Linked DNA regions of Homo sapiens: all the other regions are linked to region 4. The links come from fine-mapping of genetic effects on gene expression. A gene starts in region 4. Each other region holds a variant in brackets. All regions are shown on one strand. Distances are from middle to middle.

Region 1 (5,072 bases), 180 kb before region 4:
ATATTTTCTAAATACAGTCCAAGAAATCTTAGCAAAAGGAGATTCTCTTATCATATTCACCTGCCAACATAGAAAACCTCTAGGGGTTTCTTTGGGGCATGTAAGCAACTGTATTATTTAACCCACACCTTTCACAAGTTCATAATGTGTAACCAAACAAACCAAGCTTTCAGAGATTTGGGGAGTCTTTCTTCAAAGAAAGACTGAGAGACACAAATAAATTCAAAGAAACCAAGACTCTGAAAAACTACTTGAATATAAGGTGTGAAGGAAATATGATGAGATGTTTCACTTATTTTTAATTTAAATTCAAGTTCATCTCATTGAATTTTTATTTTCGCCAGGTCTACTTTTATGGGTTGAAAGATGCTGACTTGCACTCATATCCTACCCTGTATTCTACCCAAGACTGGGTTTCCCGGAAAGCAGACCCTGAGACAGACATTATTATGCAAGAAGTTTATTAGACGGTGCTCTTTGGGATCGGAGTCAGTAGATAGGAGGAGAAAAATGAGGATTGTACAGAGGGAGCGATTCAGCTGCCACGAAGTCCCAAAGGATTCTGACAACCCCACGAGGAGCTCTGAAGCTGTTGTCCCAAGTAGGGGGAAGGAATTCAAACCATGGCACCTCATAAGGATCAATCACTGGATGTCCATGGGAGGGGGCTTGCCCTCGGGCAAGGTGGTGTCTTTAGCTAAGACAATCTCTAGGGAAAGTGGAGGGCTTTCTGTTGATAACACTTCCAGCGATCTGGGGAAATAAGTCCTTCAACAATCAGGAGAGACCTAGGTTGCATCGATCATCGCAGCATCCACCATACCCAACAGCTACACTCTTTCTAGTTAAATTATAATTAACATGAAATTGTAGTTGCCATGAATTTCTGTTGTATTTGAACCATACACATATTTTATGATTTTGTAAAACCTAGAAACCAGTGTATATCACCAACTTGGTTGTTCCATAGATGGTGAGTGTTTCTGATTATTTTTTTCTTCACCATGTCATGGTGAAAGGTGGGTGTTTTTAATCAGAAGTTCATGGATAAACTTTAAGGTGTATATTATATCTCAGTTCACACAAATGAACTATGCACACTTTTACCTGGAGAAAGCCCATAGCTTTCATCAGACTGTCAAAAGCATAAGAGAAGTTACAAATTATTAATCGGTGGCATTCTTTTCAAGAATCCAGAATGTTGTTTAAAATGACCCGTCACAGCCGGCACGATGGCTCACGCCTATAATCTCAGCACTTTGGGAGGCCGAGGCGGGCAGATCATCTGAGGTTAGGAGTTCAAGACCAGCCTGACCAACATGGCAAAACCCCATCTCTACTAAAAATACAAAAAAATTAGCCGGGTGTGGTGGTGGGCACCTGTAATCCCAGCTACTCGGGAGGCTGAGGCAGGAGAATTGCTTGAACCTGGGAGGCGATGGTTGCAGTGAGCTAAGATTGCGCCATTGCACTCCAGCCTAGGCGACAAAAGCAAGACTCCTCCTCCAAAAAAAAAAAAAAAAAAAAAGACCAGTCACTTCATTTAAAGTTGTTTGCTTAGCTGCTTTATAGAAGTGCCAAATTTGGCCAGTGCAGTGGCTCACACCTGTAATCCCAGCACTTCATAAGGCTGACGCGGGTAGATCACTTGATCCCAGGAGTTTGAGACTAGCCTAAGCAACATGGCGAAACCCATCTCTACTACAAAAACTATTAACAGTCAGCCAGGCATGGTGCTGTACAACTGTAGTCTTAGTTCCTTGCAGCACTGAGGTAGGAGGATCACCTGAGCCCAGGAAGTTGAGGCTGCAGTGAGCCACGATCGCACCACTACACGGCAGCCTGGGTGACAGAATGAGACCCTGTCTCAAAAAAAATAAAAATACCAAATTTGCTGTGTATAAGGCAGAGTTCAGCCTGAATGGGATGCAATGAAACAAATCCAAATGTCAGTTTCTTACCTATATGCACTGTATATAAGAAGCCCAAAGGCTGACGGGGCGCGGTGACTCACGCCTGCAATCCCAGCACTTGGGGAGGCCAAGGTGGGTGGATCACAAGGTCAGGAGATCGAGAGCATCC[T/C]GGCCAACATGCTGAAACCCCGTCTGCAGTAAAAATAAAAAATTAGCAGGGTGTGGTGGCGCGCGCCTGTAGTCCCGAGTACTAAGGAGGCTGAGGCAGGGGAACTGCTGGAACCCAGGAGGCGGAGGTTGCAGTGAGCTGAGATCACGCCACTGCACTCCAGCCTGGGCAACAGAGCGAGACTCCATCTCGGAAAAAAAAAAAAAAAGAAAAGAAAAAAGAAGCCCAAAGATCTTATAGAATTTTGCAAATTTTTCTCTGTAAAATTACATGATTTTTCTAATCTGAAAAACTCCTTTAGGAAAAAAAAATCATTAGGAGAAAAAATTGAGGAAGTCTGACAATTACAGGAAGATAAAACAGATAAAGAACAAAATAGATGTCTGATTCTTGAAGCTATTTTCTGGTTAGGATATACATACTGGTGTAGCAGGAAAAAGGAAGAGCATAAAAGGCTGCTTCATCAGAGTCTGATTTAATAACTTCTTCACGTGGTTAGTTACTTCAATTTCTCAACTAGAGTTGACAGATACCTGGGCATCTAACCAAACAGCCATTCCCACAGATGAGAATGCAATGTAAGAGAATTTATGTCAAGTTATAAGCAGTTTTTAAGCAGAAGAAAATATTGACTCTGCTTTAAAACTGCGACCAGGCACTTTTCCCTAAATCTTTTGTCTTTTTCTAGATATGTGTCTGTGTATTTACTACTCTGACAAGTTCCTGCTACAGGATCTCCTGAGAAACAACTAAGAACAATCTTTGTCAGAAGAGGGATCTGACCCTTCCTTATTGACTTGATAATTATCAATTTTCAAGTTTAAAATGTGTGCTCGGTCAAAACACTCAACTAGAACTTGCAAGACTCTGAGAACATTAATGTGGCGTATTAACAACAGATGAGAAACGACACAGATAAGCACAGATCCTCAAATTATTCACTAAGTTACTTAAAAGCCCAAAGAAATAATGTTTAATGAGTCAAAATTATTTCCATGATGTAAAAATATTACAATATAAGCCTTTGCATATGTCCATTTATATTACACCTTAGCACTTGAAAATTAAGCATTTATCCAAAGGCTATATTCTCTCAGGTCCACTTCTATTGTCTCCATAATAATGCTGATAGAACAAGTTTCTACATTCATCCAGCTGAAAAACACAAAGCTATTTAAAAACAAATCTATCTTTACCCAGGAATGCAAGGTTAGTTTCAAAATACAAAAATCAATCAATATAATGTACCACATTAACAGAATACAGGAGAAAAACCAAATGATCATCTCAATAGATACAGAAAAAGAATTTTATAAAATCCAACATCTTTTTATGATAAAAACATGCAACAAGCTAGGAATGGAAGGGAATTCTCAACCTGATAAACAGCATCTATGAAAAACCCACAGTCAACATCATACTTCAAGGTGAAGACTGAAAGCCTTCTGTATTTGTCCATTTTCATGCTGCTGATAAAGACATATCTGAGACTGGGAAGAAAAAGAGGTTTAATGGACTTACAGTTGCACATGAATAGGGAGGCCTCACAATCATGTTGGAAGGCAAGCCACCATGTGACTTGCTTGGAAGGCACAAGGCAAAGACAGAGAGAGCTTGTGCAGGGGAGCTTCTCTTTATAAAACCATCAGATCTCGTGAGACTTATTCACTATTGCAAGAACAGCACGAGAAAGACCCATCCCATGATGCAATTGCCTCCCACTGGGTCCCTCGCACAATACATGGGAACTGTGGTTATTACAATTCAAGATGAGATATGGGTGGGGACACAGCCAAACCACATCATTTCGACCCAGCCCCTCCCAAATCTCATGTCTTCACATTTCAAAACCAATATCCCCCAAAGCCTTAACTCATTTCAGCATTAGCTCAAAAGTTCACAGTCGAAGGTCTCATCCAGTATAGGCAAATCCATAGAGACAAAAAGGAGGTTACTGGTTGTCAGAGGATGAGGGGTTGTAATTGCCAGCAGGTGTGAGTTTCTTTCTGAAGTGATGAAAATTGGACAGTGATGATGGTTGCACAACATTGTAAATATTCTGAAAACCACTGAATCATATAGTTTAAAATGGTAAATTTTATGATCTGTGAATTCTAGCTCGATTGGAAAAAAAATTCCATCCAAATTAACCCCTCAGTGCTAGGTCAAAGCAATATCCATCAACGAATTGTGAAAACACTCTAAGTTCTGAGATGTATCTTGCTTTATCCCCCTCAAATAACACAAAACAGTTTAGCCATGTTTATTTCTTCTTAATGTTCTTAAAAATTCTCGCCAGGCGCGGTGGCTCATACCTGTAATCCCAGCACTTTGGGAGGCCGAGGTAATCCCAGCACTTTGGGAGGCCGAGGCGGGTGGATCATGAGGTCAGGAGATCAAGACCATCTTGGCTAACACGGTGAAACCCCGTCTCTACTAAAAATACAAAAAAATTCGCCGGGCATGGTGGCAGGCGCCTGTAGTCCCAGCTACTCGGGAGGCTGAGGCAGGAGAATGGCGTGAACCCGGGAGGCGGAACTTGCAGTGAGCCAAGATCGCGCCACTGCACTCCAGCCGGGGCAACAGAGCGAGACTCCATCTCAAAAAAAAAAAAAAATTCTCCTGCATTCTGTGTATCATCTATACACACCTCTATCTTCTAAAAGGCAGTCTTGTAGCAAGCACACTGGTTCTTGTTAGATCACTAATACACAAGAGTTTCCATCTAGACAGTCGTGCTTCTCACCCAAGGTGAATTGCCAAAATCAGTAAGTAGCATTAATTCACCTTCTGTTAGTCCTCTTCCTTTCCACATACCTTATTCTTCTGTACTTTCTTCCTATGAATTACATTTATACTCTGTGGTAATTCCTGAATTAGGTAAAACAACTCTTAAGTTGTTCAGAATTCTTTCTGGTTTGGAGTAGCTTGTTTGAAAGCAACAGATAACAGTAGAAACCCTAAAAATAACAGATTAAAACACTGAGCAG
Region 2 (5,072 bases), 510 kb before region 4:
AGATGCCAGAGATGGCTTTTTGTTATGGAAGTTTCTCAGACATTCGATGCACTTTTTTTGCCCACATCTGACTCTCCCTCTTCAGAGCAGCGCGGCTCAAGTTCTTGACTCGCACGAACAAGGCTGAGCCGACCAAGTGCTGTGGAGACCGAGACTGAGGGGCCGGGAAGGTGCCAAGGCGGCCAAGACAGAACTGAGCGTTAACTTGGGAAGGGAAAGATGAATGTCGCACGCTGGGAGCAGCAGGAGGAGTTGGGAAGAAGAGTGCTTCACGGCTGAACCCAGCCGAAGGCACGGATGTCCCAGGTCACCCTGTAAGCCATTGCCTATGGCAGGGGATGGCTTCTTCCCCAGACGACACGGCAAAGGAATGGTCCCTGTGGACAGGGAGGGCTGGAGTGGCACTACCAAGCTGCAAACCTCATTCCTGTCCCATTGAGGGCCTGGAGGAGAGAACATTCATAGGGCTTCATCGCCTCATTCCCAGGAAATCAACTGCCCAGAGCCAAACGGAGCCTGAAATCCTGACGTGACTCACATCCACCGTAATGGTGACCAAGCCACGCATGTTATTTTCTCTTTCCTCTGAAACCCCCAGCCACAGTGTGGCCCTGATGCCTCAACCCCTCTGAGGCTGTCAGGGAGTCTGGGGCCAGAGAAAGGTTTGGCAGCGATGGACCCATTCTGAACCCAGGTCCAGTTAAGTTGCTGTATAACTCAGGGCAACTTAATCTTTCATTTCTAGTTTCTCTGCCAGAAAAGCAGGTGAAGGGAGGCAAAATACAGACCTCATGTTGAGTAACTGAAGATTGAGTGATGCCCTTTCTAAAGGGCCCACCTGCCTGGATGCGGTAAAAACAATGTCCCATGTCAGCTGGTGCTTTGGCTAACACCTATATCCCAGCACTTAGGGAGGCTGAGGAGGGAAGATTGCCTGAGCTCAGGATTCAAGACCAGTCTGGGCAACATAGTGAGACCTCATCTCTACAAGAGTTTAAAAAATTAGTTGGGCATGGTGGCACACACCTGTTATCCCAGCTCCTCAGGAGGCTGAGGCAGGAGGATCACTTGAGCCCAGGAGGTCGAGGCTGCAGTGAGCTATGATTGCAGTGCTACACTCCAGCCTGGGTGACAGAGCCAGATGTGTCTCTCAATGTATCAATAAGAACATCCTCCTTCCCTTAGGAAAGCAGAGTCCCCTCATGTAGCTTCTCTGCACGTGGCCTGGGGAGCCTCCCTCAGGTCACACGCTGGCAGCTCCAGAATGCATGTGCCCAGGGGTGTTTCCTTTGCTTTTTTATATCAGCCCCTGGGGAGGCTTTTCTTCGTCGGTAGCTGGGGAGGGGTCGGGACCACTGGGGCTGTGAGATCGTGTCTCCCAAGCTGGCCTCCTTCCTAGGGCACTGGGGATCCCCTTTCATGCTGCACCTGCGGCCACGGCCGCGCCTCGTCGCTCTGAAGCCAGGCAGTACGCATGTCCTCTGTCCACACTGGCCACTTGCTGTCCCAAGTGCCCTCCTCGTACTTTCCTACCTCCCTGGTCTTGCTCATCTGTCTTTTTGGCTTCCCTTCACCCCCTTTTCCGGCAAAATCCACCTGTTGAAGTTGTGTGACGAGCACTGCCTGCTCTCGTGCCCCACTGCACTTCACTGGGCTTAGCTGTCCCCAGCAGACTGTCCTCCCCGGGAGGTGGCCACAGCAGTGGGCTGAAGAACACACACTCTGGAGACAGAGTCGGGTGTGAATTCCAGTCTCACCACTAACATGCTGTGTGGCGCTGGGAAGGTCGTGCGTCCACTTTGTGCCTCTCCTGTAAAGTGGGATAACAGTACCCACCTTGTAGGACTGCTGTGAAGGTGAACCGACACCAAACCTGTGCAGTGCTCAGAACTGAAGCTGGCAGGTGGTCCACATGTCACTAGCTTTTATTATTTGTAGCCTGGAGTCTAGAACACAGGGAAGTACAAATTCTGAACGGAGCGCTACGGTGGCCCTTTGTGAATGCAGAGTGCTTGGATCTTCGGAGGAAGAGGCCTGTATGGGCAAGTACAGTTGAAGGATGTGAATATTTAACTGATTCAGGAAACATTCAAACACAAGAATAAGGAGAATGGACTTACAAACCCCATGCACGCAGTTCCCCAGCTTCATAATTACCGACCTCTGGCCCATCTTTTGTCTCCACGCCCT[T/C]GCTCCTCCCCGACAGACATGCTTGATTATTTTTAAGTGAATCGCAGATGTTAAGAAAGCAATTTATGCTCTGTAAAGAAAATTTCAAAAAGGAAAAAGATTATCCTACGGCACCTTCATTATGACCTAGGCTGGGGACAGGGATGAAGGAGGCATTCTTTCAGAGGTGAAGAAGAGGCTGGGAGGTCAAGCGGCAGCCCAGGGCTGCAGTCTGCGAGTCTGGGCCCTTTCCAGGACACCTGGGAAGGCTCACAAACCTCACACCAGCTTCCCCCCAGCCCCAGAGCCTATTTATTTTTTTTGAGACAGGGTTTCTCTCTGCACCTCTAGGCTGGAGTGCAGTGGTGTGATCACTGCAGCTCACTGCAGCCTCCATCTCCTGGGCTCAAGTCATCCTCTTGCCTCAGCCTCCAAAGCAGCTGGGACTATAGGCACATGCCACCATGCCCTGCTAAATTTTTAATTTATTGTAACGAGAGAGGTCTCACTATGTTGTCCAGGCTGGTCTCGAACTCCTCGCCTCAAGTGATCTTCCCACCTTGGCCTCCCAAAGTGTTGGGATTAAAGGTTTCAGCTACAGCACCCAGTCCCTAAGTAGCTCCTAATCATTTTTGAGCCAGCCTGAGATATTCCACCTCAAAAATAAAGTACTAGTTATCTTCTCTCAGTTCCGAAAAAAAATTAATGGATGGAATTCTTAAAAGTTTTCACATATTTTCTTTAAATCTATTGTCGGTGTCCACTTGCCTGCAACTGGGCACTGGTAGAATGCAGGGTGAATAAATAGTAAAAAAGATGAATGGGAAACCTTGGAAACAGCTGACCAGTGTAATCTGACAGCTTTCTGTGGACACATTTGCTTGTGGTTGTGATTTTATATTGTGCAGAATAATACATGCTCGGCTAGTAAAATTGTTCCTGCTTCATATGATGAAAGTACAAGCAACCTCAGCCCTGCAGCCGTGTCCACAGCGCCCTGTCTCCCGGGCACGTCTCCCCTGGCAGAGCTTCCCAACAGCTGCTGTGGCTGCAGAGAGCGAGGCCAGGGTGGGACCTGGGCACTGGGAGGGCCGACCGGGAAGAACGAGTTTGGACTCTCTTGCTACAATTCCCAAGAGCCAACACCCAGCGTGTGGCAGAATTTACACGGGAGAGGGAAGGAATGCAGCAAGCTGGCTTGATTCCTCTCTCGGGCAGACACAGAAGTGTGGCTAAGCAGAAAAGTAATTCTCATAAAAGAAATCCTCCAGAATAATTTCTTATTGAGCATAAAGCCCAAGACAAATCCCAAAGCTGGAAATGACAGCCGCGTCCAAGCACAGGGTTTCTCGGCTCCTTTTACTCTTGGCACACACACTTTCTGTTGACCCAGCCTGCACGCCCCAGAGTCAGTGCATCAGAACGCGCCCTGCTGAAGCTTGAGTCCCAGTCCTGGGCAAAGCCCTCCCTTGGTGGCCGCCCTTCTGGCTCTTCTACCTTGGTACAACAGCAGCACCATCCCTCAGCGCTGGGCACCTACTCTAAGCTCTGGAACAGTGAGACCTGATACGGATAACCTGGCCCGGGGCTGAGGGTAGAAAGAAGGAAAAAGGGAACCGGGAATTGACTTTAAAAGCTGCAAACCCGGAGATCAGGCGGGAAGGGAAAGGAGGCTCATGCCCGTCAGGGCTGTGATGACTCCCACACCCACCGTAAATCCTGGGACCCCTGGCCCTCGGGCTGCCTGCCATTGGAGTTGGCCTCTTGGGCACTGCAGACCTTGTCCATCTTTTCTAGCATTTGGGGACACACCTTGCCTGGATGATCAGCTGGGTGACACTCAAAGAAGGACACAGCACGGTTTTTAAATAACTTTATAATTTCCTGGTGGATTTAGTTTGTGAATAAAAAAGAAAAAATGAACAAAGTGTTTACAATAATTATCAAGGCAAAGTTGAATATAACACAATTTCTTTGTAATGTCATTATCCTGTCAGTAACACAACTCCAGCAGGAACACACACATACAGCTGAAGGCAGCGGGTGCACGTGCATCCCAGACACCACCATGGAGGCTGCTACTGTTACCAAAAGGAACTCAAGCTACAAGGGGGCAGGTGCTCCTCAGCTCCTCCACTAAAGTGCAACACTTCTCTTCTGACGCATCAGGGAGCAGTCACAGGCCCCACTGGATATCCTGCAATGCCCGGCAGGTGCCTGGGCTAGTCCTGCGATGGGCCAGCAGGCCAGAGTGGGTGGTGCTGCCCTCAGGATGTGTAGCTGCAGTAGATGGATGCAATACTGGCGTGGTGTGGAATGAGGGGCTGGACCCAGAGGGCCTGCTTTGGCCGGGGTGAATTCTCTGGCTTCAGTAGGGTTCACTTCCTTTCCTGACAGTGGCTTCTCTGGGGTCAAGAGAGAGCCTGGGCCTAGGAGATCTAGGGTCTAAAAAAGCTCAAAGGGAAATAATTGAGGGCCTGAAGCCAGAAGGAACTGACATGGAGGACAGTCTGTTCCACCTGGATTGCAGGCTCCAGGCTGGCCAGTGCTCACCCGTGCTGGGTGGTCACTGGAAGAGATAGCACCAAGTGGGCAGGAGAGGTCCTGTGGCCTGCCAGGCAGGGGCTTCAGGGTCAAGCCCAGGTTACCATGCAGTATTAGGCACACTGAGCTAGAACCCACGTCGGGTGAGGGTGGTTATGGGGTCACAAACTGTGAAACCTCTACCCAGAGGTCCTGAACATGTATAGGAAAATCCTGGCACAACTGCGAGGCTCTGAGCCCCAGATTCTCGTTCCTTTTGCTCGGCAGGTGTCTCTTGCCCAGGCAGGCACTACCCTAAGTGTGCTCCATGCTTCCTAAGCCGCCAGCCCAGGGCCACCTATGCCAGCCTGGGAGGAGGG
Region 3 (5,072 bases), 110 kb before region 4:
TCAAAAGTCAAAGTCTCGGCTGGGAGCGGTGGTTCATGCCTGTAATCCCAGCACTTTGGGAGGCCGAGGCGGGTGGATCACGAGGTCAGGAGTTCAAGACCAGCCTGGCCAACATGGTAAAATCTTATCTCTACTAAAAATACAAAAAAATTAGCTGGGCCTGGTGGTGCGCACCTGCAATCCCAGCTACTGGGGAGGCTGAGGCAGGAGAATGGCTTGAACCCAGGAGGTGGAGGTTGCAGTGAGCCGAGATGGTGCCACTGCAGTCCAGCCTGGGTGACAGAGCAAGACTCTGTCAAAAAAAAAAAAAAAAAAAAAAAAAAAAAAAATCAAAGTCTCAAGCAGGCTCATCCTTATTACCCCATTTTCACTTATGATTTGACTCTAATATACATCCCCAATCTCCCTAACCAAGATCTACTTTTTTCTTGGTATTTATAACTGTTTGTTTATTGTTTGTCTCTCCTATCCCAGGAATTTTTCTTTTTTATTCTCTGATGTATATCAGCACCCAGAACAATACACAGTACAATGATAGTACTCAAATATTTGTCAAATGAATGAAAATACTTTTTAAGTAACTGTATAATTCATATGTAAAAAGTGTTATAAAGAAAATATCCACAATACTGTAAGAGAGTAATTAGGAGATCCTGACGTAGTCTTGGGATCTTGTAAAGTTTCCTAAGGAACACCTGAGAGCTGAAGGATGAACAGGAGTTAGAGTGGGCAAAGTGCAACCATAAAAAGGGAGGGGAAAGATGATCTCACAGGTATGTTTTCGGCCAACTAAAATCCAGAGAATGACACATGGGAGTTGAGAATCTGAAACTGCCCACACACCACTGCAGAGTCTCTGTGAACTCCAAGGTGTTCAAATGCCTGCCCTGAAGACAGCTGGTCCACACCTGCTATCTCTCCTTCTTCCTCTCCCTCTCCCATTCACTCTTTTTATTTTAATTAATTTTAAAATATTTCAGACATACAAGATTCCCTTTACCTCATAAAAGCAGCCTAATCTGGCTTGTTTCTCTACCCCTCCATTGAAACAACTCATCAAGACCACCAACGAATTCTAAGTTACCAACTCTAACAAACACATTTCTGTCCTCATCTCCCTGGAACTCTCAGAAGCATTCAAAGCAACGGCCCAATCCCTCCTAGACACTTGTTTTCTCTTGACTATTAGGACATCACACTCTCCTGTTTTTAGTTCTCACTCTCCAGTTGCACTTTCTCTGTTTCCTTCACAGGTTCTTCCTTCTAAATCAGACCTCCAGGTCTAAATTAGACCAGTGACCAGGTGATCAGTTCTAACCTTTTTCTCTTTTCCATCTAAACTCTTTAATCTACTACATGGTTTAAAATACAACGGAAATGCTGATGAATTTCTAGGCCTGCCCTCTGCTCTGATTTCAGGACTCATACATCCAACTGCCCATTTGGCATCTCTATTTAGATGTCTAACAGGCAACTCACACTTATTTTATCAAAAAAAATTCTTGATTTCCTCTTCTTCAATCTCACCCATCATCTGGTGACTCTGATGAGAGATGAGTCTTCTCTGTCTCATTAAATGGCACTGCCATTCCAGTGGCTCAAGCCAAACACCAAAGCTCTCCTTTTTCTCCTCCTGATATTCATTTCCCACAACCAAGTCAACAGCAGGTCCTAACTGTTCTAGTGCGGAAGTATTTCTTGAGTCTAACCATTTCACCCCATTTCCAGTCTAGTTTGCAACAGCCTCTAGTTAGCTTTCTTCCACCTCCTTTGTCTATTTTCAAGAGAGCACCAGGGTGATCTTGATAAAATATCCACAAATCATGGCATTAATCTGCTTTAAATCTTTCAATAAATTTACCATTATACTTCTCACTTTGACCATAAGGTGAGATGGGCCTTCCTGTCATAAACTATCATAAAATTAAACAAAATGCATGAAATAACTGTTTTCAGACCCTGGATAACAAGCAATACAGGACTATGATCCTTGAGAGAAAATAAACAAGGTGATGGCCCAGATATGTCTAGTATGGGGCGTAGGGAGGGAAAGCCCAAACAAAGAACAGCAGTCTTGCAAAGCTCCAAAGACAGTTTAATGAGTAAGGTTCCCATTAATCTGCAAAACTTTGCGGAGCAAAATACCAGAGGTCCGGGCACCATGGCTCACGCCTGTAATCCCAGCACTTTGGGAGGCCAAGGCGGGCAGATCACTTGAGGCCAGGAGTTCAAGACCAGCCTGGCAAACATGGCAAAACCCCGTCTCTTCCAAAAATACAAAAAGTAGCTGAGCATGGT[G/A]GGGGGCACCTGCAATCCCAGCTACTCGGGAGGCTGAGGAAGGAGAATCGCTTGAACCTGGGGGGCAGAGGTTACAGTCAGCCGAGATCGCGACATTGCACTCCAGCTTGGGCAACAGAGTGAGACTCTGTCTCAAAAAAAAAAAAAAAAATTAAAAATTAAAAACAAAACACAGAGAAGGGAGCTTACCAGAAAAGCAGCACTGTCTAACCTGACAAGGGTCCCCTTGAGTCTTTGGCCAAATACTAAGCTGTGCATGTATAGGGCAAGCTGCCACAAAATAAGATCAAGAGCTACTGGAGAAAGAGCAACTATCAGAGAGCCATGAGTTGAGTAACTACCTGAACCCCATAGGGCTGGGAAAAATTCAAGTTCCAAATAGTGGGGAGAACAGCAGAGGCATTTAGTAGAGACACTAAAAGGTCAAGCTTAGGAGTAGAGCTGATGTAGCCTAGAGAAAAGGCTATTCTAAACCAGGCCTAACAGAGTTTAAAAGCAAGTCTTGAAAGGATCAAGTTAATCCCCAAGTAAATTAACTCTTGCCAGACAAAACAACCCTTCATTAAGGAAGGTACCAAAATCCAGATACTCAATCACCTTGTGTCCAAAATGTCCATCATACCACAAATTCTATACACACGAAGTAGGAAAATATGACCTACAACCAGGAGAGAAGTCATTCCACTGAAATAAACATGGATATTACAAAGATGATGGAATTGTCATTCCAGCTAATAAGCCAAGAAATGCTCCAACTGCACGAGAAAAAAAAGGAGGAATTAAGGGCAAATCGGTAATTAAGAGATTTAAAGCATATTTTTGAAAAACAGACAAAACAAAGACATAATTCTTAGGGATGATACCTAGGAATGATATTAATTTAACATATAATACAAGATAACAATACTATGATAGTAAGGATCAGATGTGATAAGTATAATAAGCAAAGGCATGATAACTATAAAACCCAGAACACTGGTTACTTTTAGAGGGAAGGGAGAGTTCTGGCTGGGTTGGTTCACGTACAGGACTTCTGGGTGGCTGTGAAAGTTCTATTTCTAGACCTAGGTAGTGGTTATGAGGGTGCTTACTTTATAATTTACTTAACTATACACCTGTTTTATTCTATTTCTTACATGCATTCCATATTGTATCAAAAAAGAGTTTTTAAAATCTCTTAAAATTATTTGTTTTCTTCCATCCCAACACCTAACACATTAATTAGTTTAGGCCATAATAATCTCTCACCTGCCTTAAAACGACAAACTCGTCAGCCTCCTCCCAGCCTAGTTTGTCCATGTTGAATCTGTTCTGCACACTACAAGGTGATTGACTGGGCACACGGTAGATATTTAACAGTATTTGTTCAATAAATGAGTGTCGAACTTTAAATTGTCTGAGTAAAAATAAAATGAACTCTGCTAACTGTAAACAATCTTCATTTATTAACAAAATTTTATAACCTATACTTTACAACATTTTTATTTGGTATTTCTGTATCTACTTGAAAATATTAAAACTGCATTTTTTAAAAAATAACACACAATTTAGATTTTCAACTTATTTCATCTGATTTCTCCTCTTGAGCATCACCTAATTCCTAAAGAAAACCGAAAAATCCATTTGAATAAAAAGTCCTGACTGGGTGCAGTGGCTCATGCCTGTAATCCAAACACTTTGGGAAACCAAGGCAGGCAGATCACTTGAGCTCAGTAGTTCGAGACCAGCCTGGGCAACACGGTGAATCCCCATCTCTATGAAAAACACATAAAACTAGCTGGGTGTGGTGGTGCTCATGTGTAGTCCCAGCCACTTGCGGGGGCTGAGGCAGGAGGACTGCTTGAGCCTGGGAGGTGGAGGCCGCAATGAGCCAAGATCACGCCACTGCACTCTAGGTGACAAAGTCAGACCCTATCTCAAAAAAAAAAAAAAAAAATCCTTCCCTGCGTACAATAAAGAATTGGGGTGTATTTTAAACCATCCATAGGCATAAAGCTTTTCTACAAAGACGTTTTAAAACCCATTGCTCAAAACAAACTCCCATTCAGAAGCCTGCACCTTACAGTTCACTATGAACACATCTTCCAGTCAGTGAGCTCATAAGCTCCCCTTTCCCACCAAGCACATCAAGCCTATGCCTCCCGCATTGTCAATAGAGAGAGAAGACTGGAAATAGAAGTACTATTCAAAGAAGTGTAAGAAGTAGAATATGCTATTTGGTCACTTTATTTCACTCCTTTTTGGCTGAAAATTTTCATTTGAAAAAATTAGAGGTAGAAGTATCTGAATCTTGTTATATAGTCTATTTGTCTTTTTTTGTCTTAGTCCATTTAATGTTGCTATAATATACTTTCAAATGTGGTAGACCATAAAAAATATGTTCATTTTCTCTCCTTAAATAACTAAAGAATAATGACTAATTTATATTTAGAAAATAAACAAGTTAGAAACAATTTTTTTTTTTTTTTTGGTGCAGTGGCACAATCTCGGCTCACTGCAACCTCCACCTCCCGAGTTCAAGCGATTCTCCTGCCTCAGCCTCCCAAATAGCTAGGACCGCAGGCATGCACCACCATGCCTGGCTAATATTTGTATTTTTAGTAGAGACGGCATTTCAGCATGTTGGCCAGGCTGATCTTGAACTCCTGACCTCAAGTGATCTGCCCACCTAAGCCTCCCAAAGTGCTGGGATTACAGGTATGAGCCACCACGCCTGAGAAACAAAATTTAATAATTCTCCTTTTCCCTAGTTGTTTCTTTGTAAAAGTAAGTCA
Region 4 (5,072 bases):
TTTTTTTTTTTGAGACGGAGTTTTGCCGTGACTCAGGCTGGAGTGCAGTGGTGCAATCTCGGCTCACTGCAAGCTCCACCTCCCAGGTTCAAGCAATTCTCCTGCCTCAGCTTCCTGAGTAGCTGGGGTTACAGGTGTGCACCACCACACCCAGCCAATTTTTATTTTTATTTTTTGAGATGGAATCTCGCTCTGTAGCCCAGACTGGAGTGCAGTGGCATGATCTCGGCTCACTGCAGCCTCTGCCTCCCAGGCTCAAGCAATTCTTCTGCCTCAGCCTCCTGAGTAGCTGGGATTACAGGCATGTGCCACCACGCCCAGCTAATTCTTATATTTTTAGTAGAGACAGGGTTTCACCATGTTGGCCAGGCTAGTCTCGAACTCCTGACCTCATGATCCGCCTGCCTCGGCCTCCCAAAGTGCTGGGATTACAGGCATGAGCCACGGCGCCCGGCCAAGAACCTTCACTTTTAAGTTTGCAGTATTAATGTTGAATTAACAGACTGGCATACTTATCTATGACACAGGTAATGAAGGAAAAAAAACACCTCAGTAGACTCAACAAGGATATCACAAGTAATGACTAGCAAGCAACATTTTTTGAAAAATAAAATGTAGGCATAATTTCAGGCACAAGAAATGCTAAACGAAATAGCTTACTTTTACCTTAAGACTTTCCCCAAATTATGTGATTTCATTCCTACAAGGACAAGAATCACAGCTTACTACCAGCCATGCAAATGTCATTTTAGGAGTACACACAAGTTTTACCCAGTATCTTAGTTCACATTTGTCCCAATTAATTAAGTCTATGTATAATTTAAAAGCGAAAACTAGATATGTCAATTTTGTTTTCCTTCTAACTAATCCAAAGTCAAAACTGTTCACTTTACCAAATGAATTAACTGAATACAGTTAATTAAATCTTTTATTTATAATTAAAAATTGGAACACACACTTTCTCACTTAATACCTATTATGTCCTGTTTCCCATACCTCTCTATAAAGTAGAAGTATTTGCTGGAAGACAATAATCTGCTCATTAAGTAGGCACTTAGAAAAAGCAACGATCTGCAACTACTGAAATTCTTATCTGTATATTTCTCTTTTGGGTTACAAGAAAGCACTTCTCTGGCTATTTTCCCAAATAAACTAGGCAAGCCTTGGGAAAGTCACTGCTTAAATCCCACTTTCTGACAGCTTCTCTTCCTCCATAAATGAATTATTGAGAGCCATGTCTACTTCCATCCATTACATAATACATGTCCATCATGGGACCTGTTTTCTGAACAAGAAATAGCTTAAATGACACTAACTGATAAGTAGGGCCAGAGAATACTGTAATCTAACAGGGAGCAAGAATCCAGAAAAGAAGATTCTGATTTACAGTGCTAAGTTGTGAAAGAGTGATGTGAAGAACATTGAACACTGCTTACTCTAATATTTCCATACAAAGTGACACACCTGCCCCCAAAATGTTTTTAAAGCACTTGACTCCAAGAACATTTCTCAGAAATTGAGGAGCCTACCAAAAAAAAAGAGTTCCATTTCATTTTAAAGTGTTTTAATAAAGACTGCAAGAAACATAACTGCAAATGAGAAATAAAATTTCAACAATTTAGCACTGAACACAAAATGTCTAAAAGTCAAGGTGTACTGAGCAAGCAACACGCTATAAAAGACGGTTGTACTTTAAAACATTTAAGCATTTTTCATATAATTAGCTCCAACAGAACTATTCCAATTGTTCACTTTATCCACCCAAAGCAGTCAACCACAACCACCTGCAACTATTATTCAGCAATGTGCCTTCCAAAGCAACCACCTGAGTTTGGGGCCTTCTCTCAAGGGGCCAGGATAAAGCCTGTAAAAGGGTGGTATAAAGAGATCTTTTAGGCATTGGGGGGAAAAAAAACTGGAAGACACCACCTTGAAGGAGCTAAGCGTAATGCGACCCAAATGGTGGCTGCCGGAACGAAGTTGTCTAAACCGAAGATCTCCCTCTTCTTCGGTGTAAAACTTTCAGATACATCCACGCTCACAATTTACCTGAGCCAAAGTAAGGGGATTCTCTTCCCTCTCCGACCCCCCACCCACCCCGCCAGAAGAAAAAGAATCGAACCCTAAAGTAGAAACGTGAGATCTAGTGCAATAAAATAGGTTCTGCAACTGCCTCAAAGGCAACATGCACAGCTCATCGTCCTTTTGAAATACACTTCATCTTTTATCTCACCATTTCATCGAAAAGAAAAGAATCATCTTCAGCATTTTACATCACTCACCTAACCCAAAGATCCACCCTGACCGCACCCCAACCTCATGGCTCCCCAATTTCTCCGTCTCCCCACTACCTCGTCCGCGGCTTCACTAGTCCTAAGCCTCCCCCCCTCCGCTCCCCAAGTGCCCAGAGCCCCAGTCCCCACTCCCCCACCTCCCGCCCCAGGATCCCCACATCTACCGCCTCGGCTCCCGCCCGATCCCGGAGCCCGGCTGGGTGGAGCCCGCGGGTGGGCGCCGGTGGTCTGGGTGGGGCCCGCCCCTCCCCACCCCCCGGGCTGCCGAGGAGGGGGAGGGGGTCGCGAAGCCTCACCTACAGCTCCGCCCCTCCCCGGGGGCGCGTTGCCCTGCCCAGCCCAGCCCGGGCCGTGAGCAAGAAGCTGGGTAGGAAAGGCGAAAGCCTCAGCACTAGCGACAGGGGGGAAGCTCTGGGTCCCGCGCGACTTCCGCGCTGTCGCCGCCGCCGCGGCCGTCTCACCGTCCTCAGGGCTGCCGCTACTGCTGCTGCTGCCGCCCAGGCACCGCCGCCGCCGCCACTACCGCCGCCGCCGCCGCCACAGCACGGCCCAGGCGCCCGCGACGTCACCGCGCCCCGCCCCCTGCGCGAGACACCTAGCCCCGCCCCCAGCCCCGCCGCGGGGCGCAGCGCGCCTCCCCGGGCTCCCGGCTCGGCTGCCTCCCTTTCCCTCAGCCTCCCGGGAGCGTGACGCGGCGGCCCGGGGGCCTCCGGGCGCCTTCCGGGGCACGCGGGTGAGGAACTGGGAAGCGGGGGAAATCGGCGCCACGGCGGTCGATTAGCACCGAAACAGAGTGATGGGCGCGGAGCGTCCCTGCACACACACACACACTCACACACACACACACACGACCCCTGCGGCCACGGGAGGGGAGAGCCGGGGTCGGCTCCGCGAGCGCAGGGTGGCGCTTGTCTCCTCCTGCTTGCCGTAGGAAGTGGACGCTGGAAGCCCGAGGAGCCGCTTCGTGTCTTCCCAAACCTAAGCGGCGCCCCACCCCCTACTTCTCGTGGCCCGTTACGCCCGGGGCAGCCAAGCGCCGCGGGAGCAGCGCCGGGATCGACCCTGGCTGCTGGGGGGACGCTTTGTCCCAAGAAAGCTGGTTTTTTGCCCCTTAGCTTCGTGGAACGCGGCCGCGAAATTAGTGGTCTTCTGACCTGAGACTCGCGGGGCTGCGCACACGGGCATCGCCGAGGACCCCAGCAATGGACGTCGTGTCTGTGGTGATCCCGCCAGGACGCGGGGAGCGTGGGCGGAAATTAGTGTCCACGTTCCGACCCTGCGCTGTGCCAAACGCTGCTTCGGGAGCTGTTTATTTAGCCTCCGACAGCTAAGCGAATCGGCGGGCGGCTGGGGCCTGGTGCAACCCGATTTTCTCGTGCAGACTCGCAGCCGGCTTTGGTTTTGTTTTTTGTTTTTTGTTTTTTTTTTGGAGCCATGCAGAGGGTAGCTACAGCCATTAATTTAAGGATGTAGATAAGCTATCTCTAAACCAAGAAAGTAAGAATGGTGTGAATTATATTTATTCCCAGCCTTCCAGTGTTTATTAAAATAATTTTCGGTGTCCTTGAGAGGAGTTAAAAGCCATCATTTTACTCCTGCTTACCTCCGCCACCGTAATTAACCACTTTATACTGCCTCATAATCCCATTAACAAATTGCAGTCGCTCCTCAGCCTTCACATTCATTCACTCACCAGTTTCTACTGTTTCATCCTGCCCGGACTCTTAACTGTTCCCTCCCAGGATCGACATGCACTTGGATCATTGCAGTTTCTGGGCCTGCTGTCATCTCCCCCTTCAGTACTTCCCACATATGACTACCAACTGTTAGACGATGTGCTGCTGCCAGACCAGCCTTTCATTTCTTGGACATCCGGCTATTTACCCAGGAAAAGTCATCCTTTGACTATTTTTCATGACCTTTCTCATCTGACTCGTGATCTGCCCATCTTGTTACTCCCTAGCAGTGTGGTAAGGTAAGAGAAAATTCAACTAGGAGTCAATAGATATTTCTGTTCTCATTCTCCCACTGTCTACTTGTGTGGCCTCAGGCAATTCATTCTACTTGTGGTCTTACTTAACTGTAAAGTGAGGTTTGAAGTAGGTGTCTGAGATACATCATGTCCTTAAAATATGTGGATCTGGAGAATTAAGTTGCTAAGCGCTATGTTATACACGGAAATACTGTCCTAACACAGATTCAGATTTTTGTTTTTTATTTTTTGCCACCACACTGGCAAAAAATATTATTTCCTGCCCTGCTCCAGTTATCTTTTTTAAAACCTACGTTTAGGATTTTTGATTAAAGCTAGCTAACCGAGCACATGTATTTACTGTCTCTTCTTCCTGAGACCCCATAAAATGATGATAAATAAAAGTGATACAAAATAGAAAATGAGAAGGGGGACATCGGAAGATAATTTTTTTTTATTTGACATGCAAAAAGTAAGTGTGGTCTGACAAAATAAAATGGAGAAAAGCATAATGTAGAATGGGTGTAGAGGGTGCTGTAGAAAGGAAGGGGACCTGTCAGCCCAGAAGTGCTTTAGGGAGACGGAGATTTGGAGATAACTACCAGACAGAGCAAGAGTGAGAAGCAGAGTTGAGACCAGGGAGACTAAATAAAGGTCTATATAAGGAAGAGCAGAACCCTCCCTATATCTCAGATACAATATCTAGGCATTTATCCAGGCTAAAATTAAGCACTCTGATAATCTGGGGAGATTTGGGTTAACTGAGTATTGAAGGGCCTAAGAGTAAAGTATTCTTTATTCTAGCA
Region 5 (5,072 bases), 33 kb before region 4:
GAACACCTAAACAAAGTTATCTGTGTTCATGGATGAGAAGACAAACACTGCTAAGATTTAGTTCTTCCCCAACTACTTAGCACAATCCCAGTGAAAAATCTCTACAGGATTTTGCTAACCAGCTATAGATCCCTTCCTTTCACAGGTGTTGAAGGATTTTTCAAGTAACTCAACAAGCTGACTCTAAAATTCAAATGGAGAGTAAAGATACAAGAGTAACCAAACAATTTAAAATAGATGAACAAGGAAGGAAGACAGCCCTCAACAGCAACATAAATTACAAATCCATAATTCTTCATTTGTACTGCAAAAATCCAAAAACCTCTGAAAATAAGATTTTCCTTTTAACTCATCTAGCAGCAAACCTTGACCTGATCTGAGCTTACTTACTGTTTATATGTATCCCACATAGTGTGACTTCATATATTTCATTAAGAAAACAATGTGTGTGATTACTGGATACTACATAATGTCCACTAAGTATTACTGGAAAAAATTCCTGACAACAAAACCACATCTGACCTGCAAGGTTTCTTACAAAGTATTGTAGCCTTGTAAAACTATAATAACGAAAACTGTATAGTACTAGCCCAAGAACAGGGTCTAAATTATATATGGGAATTTAATATATGTTAAAAGTAACGTTTCCAAACAGTGAGTGATATGGTTTGGCTGTGTCCCCACTCAAATCTCACCTTGAATTGCAATCATCTTCATGTATCAAGGGTGGGGCCAGGTGTACTTAACTGAATCATGGGCGCAGTTTCCCCTCTACTGTTCTGGTGGTAGTGAGTGCGTCTCATGGGATCTGATAGTTTTATAAATTGGAGTTCCCCTGCACAAGTTCTCTTGCCTGTCGCCATGTAAGACATAATTTTGCTCCTCATTCGCCTTCTGCCATGATTGTGAGGTCTCCCCAGCCATGTGGAACTGAGAGTCCATTAAACCTCTTTCCTGGCAGGGTGCAGTGGCTTACATCTGTAATTCCAGCAATTTGGGAGACCAAGGCGGGTGGATCACCTGACATCAAGAGTTCGAGACCAGCCTGACCAACACGGCAAAACCCAATCTCACTAAAAGTACAAAAATTAACCAAGCATGGTGGCAGGTGCCTGTAATCCCAGCCACTCAGGAGGCTGAGGCATAAGAAGCTTGAACCCAGGCGGCAGACATTGCAGTGAGCCGAGATCGCGCCACTGCACTCCAGCCTGGGTGACAAGAGCGAGACTCCGTCTCAAAAAAAAAAAAAAAAAAAAACTTTCCTTTTTAAATTACCTAGTCTCGGGTATGTCTGTATTAGCAACATGAGAACAGACTAATACAGTGAGGAAATGAAAAATCACTCAATAAATGAAGTTTAAATACTTGTTGCTCTTTGAGAAACATAACGTATACTCGTCTTCACATAGTACACCAAAATAAATTCCATATACATTAAAGATATAAATTTTTTAAGCCATTAAAAGTACTAGAAGAAAATTTTGAAGAATATCCTTGTGAACTTGAGTTAGGAAAAGGCTTCTTAAATAAAAAACCAGAAGCAAAAACCATAAAGAAAAACAACCAACACACTTAATTATGTCAAAATGACAAAGTATTATACCAAAAAATGCTGTAAATAAAATTAAAAGATAAACCAAAAGCTAGGTGAAAAATACAGTGAACATAAGTATAATGATCTGTAAACAGAGTATGTAAAGAATTCCTACACGGGAAATGCCAATTTTGAAACAGCGATAATTAGAGGGAAGGAAACTTGTGTTATAAAGGGGAAAAATGTTTGTGGAGGCTTTAGCTCAACTTAGAAAGCTTTACACTCAAACTACCATAAAGCACCTGAATTTTTTTTTCAAAAAAGAAAACATGTTCATACTCTACAAGTATAACTAAAACAAATTTTAAAACCACAGGCAGTTGTCCCTTGGTATCTGCTGGGGACTGGCTCCAGTAGAACGTATCCAGATATCCAAGACTGCCCCAGACAACAAAAATCCCAGGATGCTCAAGTCCCTGATTCAAAATGACACAGTAATTGCATAAAACCTATGGATATCCTCCAGCATACTTTAAATCATCTCTAAATTACTTATAATACTTAATAAAATGTAGATGCTATGTAAATCGTTGTTATACTTATTGTGTTTTTTATTTGTATTATTTTTCCATGTTGTATTATTTTTTCCCAAGTATTTTCTTTTTTTTTTTTTTT[C/TC]CACTTTTTTTTTCAAGGTGACTTTAAGATTCTTTCCCAAATATTTTTGGTCCACAGGTGGTTTGAGCTGTGGATGCAGAACCCACTAAACTATAGCTATCAACTTTATAGACTTCTTTCAAAGACAATATAGATCTAAACTAGATCTCTCTGATTTCCTAGCATCATTTCAAAGCATTGGCTTAGGTCAAGTAACAACAGGCTTCAGCATATTAAACAATATTTTCCCAAAATCCATTGTTATGTAAATTGATTCTTATAAGTGTTTCTTCATTGAAAACAGTACCAAGTAAATCATATTGTCAAAAATGAGATTCTAAAGACAGTATCTATTCTGGTCAAACAGGTTAAAAGTCCTCAAAAATGTGAACACACAGGTGGTTTGAAATAACAGGCAGGTGGTTTCAAACCTGTGGGGGGAGCGGGGTGGAGAGGCGGGAGATGTTTTGTGTTTTTGTTTGTTGAGACAAGGTCTCCTCTGTCACCCAGGCTGGAGTGCAGTGGTACAATCACAGCTCACCGTGGCCTCAACCTCCCAGGCTCAAGCACTTCTCCCACCTCAGCCACCCGAGTAGCTGAGACTACAGGCGAGCATCAGCACACCCAGCTAATTTTTGTATTTTTGGTAGAGGTGGGGTTTCACCATGTTGCCCAGTCTGGTCTCGAACTCCTGGGCCCAACGGATTCGCCTGCCTCAGCCTCCCAAAGTACTGGGATTACAGGCGTGAGCCACCGTGCCCAGCTGATGGTACTTTCTTACAGCAGCCCTATCAAATTTACGTATCTCATCTCCTACATAAGAGAGAAACAAAGAAATCAAACAGGAACTATCTCAACTTTCTCTCTCCACATGTTCATTGACAGCAACAACCATCCTTAACTTCCTCTATTCTGATGGAAGTGGGCTACAGCTAATCCTTCCACAGGGTACTTTAGTCCCCATTCCCTCTGGCTTCTCCAGAGAAACCTTAGTTAATGAACACTTTTCCTCTCTAATGCCTTTTTAACTTCTGTCTATAATACATCTTGTTTCTTAAGCACTCCCAATTTTTTGACACTCTCCTCTCTTGGTTTCTTTATATCATATGCTCTTTTCTTCTAACCCTCCTCCTTCTTTGTTCGTTCCTCCCTTAAATGTTTCTGATCTTCATCCCTATGTTATTCTCACACTACAATATCATCCTTAAGAAATCCTTTCTCCCTGCCTCCACCAGCTTAAAATAACATATGTACAACAAAGACTCCAAATTCACTACTTCTCCAGTACTTTTTTACTTCTCCTTTGAGAATCAAAACTATGTATCCCACTTCTGGACATCTTCACTTATACTCCTCACATGCACCTCAAATACACCATGCCCCCAAACTGAACTCCGTATCAAGGTCTCCCCATTCCAAAACCAAACCTGCTGCTGCAGGGGAAAAAAAAAAAATCAAAAAAAGAACATGGTAGTGGACAACATCTATTCACATGAATAACATCAGCTGCTCAAGCCAGAGCCTGAGAGTCCTCCCAAAATCTTCATACTCCATATACACACATATTATCAAAACAATACAATTCCTGTTGCTTTGATTTCTAGGTACCTCTTAAATTGATCCTCTTCCTCCATTCCCACAATTATTACCTTGGTTTATGCCATCCTATCCTACCTGAATTAAAACAACTTTCTAACCTGACTGCCTGCCTCTAGCCTCAGAGTCCTGTATTAGTCCATTCTCAAGCTCTATGTAGAACTACCCATAAGACTGGGTAATTTATAAAAGAAAGAGGTTTAATTGACTCACAGTTCTGCAGGGCTGGGGAGGCCTCAAGAAGCTTACAATCATGGCAGAAGGGGAAGCAAACACATCCTTCTTCACATGGCGGCAGGAAGAAGTGCCAAGCAAAGGGGGAAGAGCCCCTTACAAAACCATCAGATCTAGGCTGGGCGCGGTGGCTAACGCCTGTAATCCCAACACTTTGGGAGGCCAAGGTCAGTGGATCACTTGAGGTCAGGAGTTCAAGACCAGCCTGGCCAACATGGTGAAACCCTATCTCTACTAAAAATACAAATATTACCCAGACGTGCTCACTTGAACCCAGGAGGCAAAGGTTTCAGTGACCCAAGATTATGCCACTGCACTCAAGCCTGGGTGACAGAGCAAGACTCTGTCTCAAAAAAGAAAAAATAAAATCGATCTCGTGAGCACTCACTATCAGAACAGCATGGGGTAACCGACCCCACGATTCAGCTACCACCAGGTCCCTCCACAACATGTAGGGATTATGGGAACTACAATTCAAGATGAGATTGCTGGGGACACAGCCAAACGGTAACAGTCCCCAGTCAGTGTTTTTCAAACTTAGAATTATGACCCAATAGTAGGTTGTGAAATCAGCTTGATAAGCTGCAACCAAGCTTGTTTTCTTGTTTGTTTTAAATGAAATAAAATCACTACATACCCTGAGCCAGAATCACCCAACACACTCTTCATGAAATCTGAGATGTTTGTTTTTCAAATCCAGTAAGTTCTGAAGTAATTGTAATGCAACAAGAGATAACAGTATTGTTTTCTGCAATGTTTCAGGTGTGCATATGCATGCACATGTGCATACTGGATCACAATATAAAATGTACTTCTTGGCCAGGCACAATAGCCTGTGCCTGTAATCCCAGCACTTTGGGAGACCAAGGAAGTAGGATTGCTTGAGTCCAGGAATTCAAGACCAGCCTGGACAACATAGCAAGATCCTATCTATAGGAGAATAGAGATAGGATCTCTAAAATAAACAGATAAATAGAACAGAAAATAAAATGTATAGCTTATTTTCACAGTGTATCACACTAAAGTAAACATAAGTAATGTTGAGAACTGTGAA
Region 6 (5,072 bases), 840 kb after region 4:
GGCGAAGGCGAGGATGAAGATGGTGTCGGGGTTGTGGAACTGCTGAACCACTTCGGGGTTGCACATGCAGTAGCGCTGGCTGTGGGGGGGTCAGATGCAGAGCGGACGCTGAGCCCCCGCCCACCCTCCCCCGGGCCCAACAAAGGAAGGGGGTGTCCAGGGGGTATCCCAGCTCTCCGAAGGCTTTAGGTCCAGGGAGACCAGTGTCTGTCCCATACTCTGGTCTTTTTCCCCACACCCCCAAATGCCCCACATTTCCAGCCTGGGGAGCTCGAGGGGTCGGTCCCTTTTCTTCCCTTCCCTTGTTTCTCCCCAGCCATCCTCCTGCCCACACCAGAAGGGGTGTTTCTGGCCCAATGTCCAACCCTCCTGATAGCATCTCCTGTCTCCCAGGCTCACAGCGGCCCGGCTTCCCCACGCTGGGGTCTGTTGGGGAGTGGAGCTGGGAAGCGGCCTTACCTGAAGGCCTCAATGAGCCGCTCCACCTTCTGAGCCTCCCCCTGCACACGGATGTGTGCCTGGAACTTGCGCAGGGCCTCGTCCAGCTCCATGCTGGAGAAGTCCATCTCGTCCACCACGCAGCTGAGGGCAGGCAGGGAGGGTGTGAGGTCAGGTGGCACCCTAAGCACCCTCCAACACCCATTCTCGCTGGCCTCTGTTCCCAGCCAGGACAGGTGCAGGGCCCCTCAGGCTACTCACCCCCGGGGGTCGCCCTTTAATGCCCCAAGAGGACCATCTCCTCCCACCTGCCACAGTAGCCCTTTCGGAACCCAAACCCTGAGGCCAGGAGAGGCTTTGGTGGCCCAGGACACAGGGGTGGAGGGAGGCTGAACTCGGATCTTCCAACTCCAAATCCCAGTTCCTTCCTTCTTAACCTCAGAGTACCCCAAGCAAAGCTTTCAGCATAAATAATACAGTAAACATATTGATTCTTCTGTTCTTTCAGAGACCCGCTAGGAGCCTGTGTTTCTCCCAGGTTTAAATTTCACTTTCTCATTTAGGTCTTGAGGGGGCTGAGTCCTCCGTTGGATCCCTTCTGCTGTAGGCTGAACAGTTAGGAGCAGAGCCCCTCAAGCCCCTGGGGCTTTCTGCAGCCCAGCTCCCCCCAGCTGCCCCAGCTCCCCACAGCTGCCCCAGCTCCCCCCAGCTGCCCCAGCCCTCAGGGGAGGCTGTGATGGGAGGCACAGCCTAAGAGTAAATGACAAATGTGCCTAACGTGAGGGGACAGCGTGACACGCAGGGTCAGATTCTGGTCTGGGCCCTCCTGCGAACTTGGTGTGACTCTGGCTTGCCCACTCACTCCTGGGGCCTCTGTGTGACCTTCTGAAAAGGGAGGAGGCTGGAGTCCCTGCTCCCCAAGGGCCTTGCTACCTCTGAAATGCTGCCTCCAACCCTGGGGGGTTTGCCTGTGAACATCCCGAGCTTCAGTGTGTGTGGGTGGGGGTGTGGGGTCACATGCCAGTTCCCCCCAGCTAAGCAGGCGCCTTCCTCTGGTCTAGCCCGATCCAGGGGACTCTGCACTGCAGGGTCTGAGGCCGAACCCTCCCAGTCCCCTCACCCTGCCTCACCCTCCTTTGGGGTGCCCTGTCCCCAGGGCCATGTGCAGCAAGGCAGGAGTCCAGGCCTGGAAAAGCAGGGGACCCAATGTCCCCTGGGCATTGCTTTCCCTTTGGGAGACGCAGACCAAGCGCGTTAGATTGGGCTCTTGGAGCTGACGTTTGCCCACTCTACACCCACTCACCCTAGTCTCCTCCCACTGGCTATGGCACAGCCCCTGCACTGCCCCTGACACTGCCCACTGCCGGCAAGCAGTCCCACTCTGCTCCCATGGTCCCCTGGCCTGCCTGCCCACCACATCGAGAGCACAGAAAACGCCTGCTGAGTGGCCCTGTGATGGTGACATGAGCTCTGAGGTGGACCCACTTCCTCCATGACCTCAGCTTCCATTCGTGCCCACTGCCTAGAAGACTTGGAGACCCCCAACTCTGCCGTCAGTTTTTAGGAGAAAACAAGGGGAGACGCCACAGTGGAGGTGGTCAGGGCCTGGTGGTCCATGGACTCCGCCTCCCACAGGTTTCTGGGGAGAACAAGGAGAAAAGTGCATCACCGAAGACTCTTAGAAAGGGAGGGGGCGCCGAGAGGGAGCTGGGAGTCTCTCCTCCTCTTTCCTTTTCGCCTCTCTCCCGTAGGCAGGGCCCATGGCCATCTTCAGGCTATGAGTTGTCCTTGGCTTGGTCAAAGCCCACTCCTCTCAGGCTTGCTGGCCGGGACAGTGGGCAGGTGAGGGTGGGGCTGGGGTGGAGGCCAGCATCTTGCCCAAGCATGAGAATCGGCAGCACCAGGATCAGGGCATTTGAGGTTGAGCTGACGGCTGGGGAACAGGGGCCTCCAGAGCCAGCCAGGCGAGAGGCTGCTCTGATTTCCCGGTGGCCCTCCTCACCTCCACCCTGCACCCTTTGCAGCCCTACGTGAGTGCCAAAGGCCCTATGCGGCCACATCCGTGTGTTCCTGTAGCCCAGCCCATCAGGAGTCAGCAACTGGGCACAACAGAGCCACACAGTGACACTGTCCAGGGCTGGTGACCAAGAGGCTGTGGTCCGATGAGTACAGAGAGAGCCTGGAGGAGGTGAACCAGCATGGTCACGCAGCAAGGGGGTCAGAGCGTGTGGGCCAGAGAGATGGGGCGGGGCAGCGAAGGACAAGGAAAGTCTAATTCGACAGAGAGCAAGGAGAGAAAGGGAGGGACAGGCAAGGAGGAAAAGGCAGGAGAGAGATCGCAAAAAGGGAGCAAGACCGGAGACTGAGATAAAGAACAAGCAAAAAACAGAGACAGGGAGGAAGGCGGAAAGACAGAGAGGCACGAGGAGAGGAAGGGACAGGAGGGGAAGAGGAAGAGACAGAAGAAGTCTGGTAGAGATGAAGATGTGAAGTGCACCGCGGACTGTGGTGGGGGCGGCATGGAGCGGCCAGATGCCA[C/A]CCTCTCAGCCCAGGGGCGCTGACTCTTATGAGGCCAAGAAAGAGGCCTGGGTCCTCAGGGCCCCAGAACGGCCCTTGGTCCCTCTGAGTGCCATCCTGCTGCTCCCCAGGACTTGCCCCCATCTGTCGTGCACCCCACCCCTTCCCTGTTTCTGAACGCTGAGGTCCTGGCACCCGGCTTCCCACATCCACGTTCCTCCCAGAGCCTCTCTCTGAGTGCCTTCTGCCCCAGGGCTATGGACCAGGTCTCACCCTGCAATGGTGGGGGTGCTGGGAGGCCCAGGGCACTGTGGGGGCAGGCTGCCGCAGAGGCAGCGGGAGCAGCTGGTGAGGGTGGCATCTGCCCAGCCAAGCACGATGGCCTAGTTTCCAGCCCTTCACTCAGGTGACAAGCAGCCGTTCACTCACTCAAGTCTGCTGCTAAAAGCCCCGGTAGTGAGCTGAGAGCCTGAGAGCCAAGGACCGGGATGGGGGAAGCAGCCAGGTTGAAAAGTCGGCCCACAGAATGGGAGTTGAATACACCCCTCGTGGGCCTCGAAGCGGGGAGGGCTGCAGGGGTGGACACTTGGGCTGTGGAGCTGGAAGGGCCTCTCATCCAACATCTTCCAGTGTGTGCTCTCAGGACCCCACAGCGGAGTCATAAGGTGGTTTGTTAAAATGCAGCTCGCTGGACCCCACCCCAGACCCAGCAAATTAGAATATTTGGGGGCAAGTCCTGGGAATCAGCATTCTCTGCAAGATCTCCCGGTTGTTCCTAAATTGTGAAACCAAAGACTGAGCTGAGTGCAAGGGTAGGCCTCACTGCGGCTTTTAAAGTGAGTCCAGCAACTCACAGGCCACCAGGCAGCCGTCCTTAGGGGCATGTGTCCCCACCTGGCTATCGGGGCTGCTTTTGCATGGGGGTGGTGAGGGAGGGGTGGATGGAGGCATAAACAGATGTAGTTCTTCCCCTGGCTATGCACCTGCCGTCCTGCCTTCCTCCCCTCACTGCATTTGCCACCACAGGGTATCTGTGTTTCATGAACAGGTGCTATTCTGGGTTTCTCAGACCCTGGGGGAAAAAATGACATTTTCTGGCTGTGAAATCCCTAGCTGGAAGGGAGGAAGCTGTGCTGAGTGGTGGGACACTCTACCCTCCTGCCTGAGGAAGGCACTTCCTCACTGGAGAGCTGGGGGTTGGACCAGGTGACCTCTCAGGACTGGCACCCGGAGGCACGGGCCATCTCTGAAGCACTGCAGACGCTCCCAACGGCAGGGGGCAGACGACCCGCAGCAGCACTCCTGGCTGGCTGGTGGCTTCATCCCCACCCTCCTCTAGGGGGAATCACTGATCACTGTTTGCGTTCCTGATGGGGCCTGTGTCATCCTGGGGAAGGTGGCTGGGGGTGGGACTGTGCTGTCTACCATAAGCCCTGCTCATTCCAGGGTCCGTGTCCCCCTGGAAGCACCTATAAGCCTCGGCCCTCTACAGCATGAGCCTCCTCTGTTCACTCCCTGAGCATAAGCTTCTGCTTGCACCGTGCCCTCTTTTGCTCCCTCCCCTTCTCTCACTCTCTGTCCTGCTGCTTCTCTTATTTTGCAGTGTCTACCAGCACTCCTAATTCCCACTTTCCAGCCTTCTTTGCTGCCCTGGAATCCTCTTGGGGAGCTGAGTGTGGGCAGTTTACCAAATCCATGCTGCAGCCTCCACCCAGGGTGGCCTGGAGTCATCTCTCCTCATTGGTCATCTTTAAGGTAAAGAGCACCACACATTCCCGGGTGGTCTTTTCTGGTGTATCATCTCCCCATTTTACAGAAGACAAAACTAATGCCACGTAGGGCTGGCCCCATGCTCCCACAGCTAGGGAGAGCAGGCTTTCAGCTTCCTAATCTTGTGAGGCCTCTCCCTGCCCCACTGGGCTCTCTTCTCTTCACTCCTGTGTGTGTGTGGGGTGGCAGGGAGGTCCCTTACTCAAGTCGGGGGAGTTCCCTCTGAGCTCTCTGTACTGAGTATGGCTCTAAGTGCTTCACTATGTGTGCAATGACCTCATCTTCTCAAGCTTGTGCAATATGAACCATTGTACCATTATGTTTTTATTACATATGAGACTGAAGTA

Which allele goes with the higher level. Alleles are on the strand shown, and positions count from the first base shown. SD is a standard deviation of normalised expression in the study named. Not every link is listed here.
As copies of A replace C in region 6, the expression in CD4 T cells of the gene that starts at base 2,855 in region 4 goes down (large effect, 1.0 SD a copy in Kasela 2017).

What was found. PIP is the estimated chance that this variant, and not a neighbour inherited with it, causes the effect.
Region 1: its variant is fine-mapped to the expression of ERC1 in lung (TOPMed, PIP above 0.99). The same link has a PIP of 0.9 or more in fibroblasts and whole blood.
Region 2: its variant is fine-mapped to the expression of ERC1 in whole blood (INTERVAL, PIP above 0.99).
Region 3: its variant is fine-mapped to the expression of ERC1 in lung (TOPMed, PIP 0.97).
Region 5: its variant is fine-mapped to the expression of ERC1 in whole blood (INTERVAL, PIP above 0.99).
Region 6: its variant is fine-mapped to the expression of ERC1 in CD4 T cells (Kasela 2017, PIP 0.93).

Annotation. Positions count from the first base shown.
Region 1 is chr12:1,164,936-1,170,007 of GRCh38, reverse strand. The region is part of intron 8 of ERC1 (ELKS/RAB6-interacting/CAST family member 1); the gene reads right to left. Among named protein-coding and RNA genes, the nearest start is that of ERC1, 180 kb to the right of the region's middle. The variant T/C (reference allele first, on the strand shown) is at 2,083.
Region 2 is chr12:1,494,888-1,499,959 of GRCh38, reverse strand. It overlaps ERC1 (ELKS/RAB6-interacting/CAST family member 1), which reads right to left. Exons shown (of 19, transcript NM_178040.4): 19 at 4,029-5,072. Among named protein-coding and RNA genes, the nearest start is that of LINC00942, 3.1 kb to the left of the region's middle. RefSeq lists an enhancer at 1-172. The variant T/C (reference allele first, on the strand shown) is at 2,191.
Region 3 is chr12:1,095,093-1,100,164 of GRCh38, reverse strand. All of the region lies in intron 3 of ERC1 (ELKS/RAB6-interacting/CAST family member 1), which reads right to left. Among named protein-coding and RNA genes, the nearest start is that of ERC1, 110 kb to the right of the region's middle. RefSeq lists an enhancer at 5,070-5,072. The variant G/A (reference allele first, on the strand shown) is at 2,299.
Region 4 is chr12:989,006-994,077 of GRCh38, reverse strand. ERC1 (ELKS/RAB6-interacting/CAST family member 1) reads right to left here and starts at 2,855. Exons shown (of 19, transcript NM_178040.4): 1 at 2,756-2,855. It also overlaps a transcript of RAD52 not described here. RefSeq lists silencers at 2,041-2,335, 2,541-3,050, 3,071-3,180, 3,591-3,640 and enhancers at 2,339-2,900, 3,462-4,024.
Region 5 is chr12:1,021,980-1,027,051 of GRCh38, reverse strand. The region is part of intron 1 of ERC1 (ELKS/RAB6-interacting/CAST family member 1); the gene reads right to left. Among named protein-coding and RNA genes, the nearest start is that of ERC1, 33 kb to the right of the region's middle. The variant C/TC (reference allele first, on the strand shown) is at 2,210.
Region 6 is chr12:152,535-157,606 of GRCh38, reverse strand. It overlaps IQSEC3 (IQ motif and Sec7 domain ArfGEF 3), which reads right to left. Exons shown (of 14, transcript NM_001170738.2): 6 at 460-582; 7 at 1-79. Among named protein-coding and RNA genes, the nearest start is that of IQSEC3-AS3, 5.9 kb to the right of the region's middle. RefSeq lists an enhancer at 3,657-4,571. The variant C/A (reference allele first, on the strand shown) is at 2,977.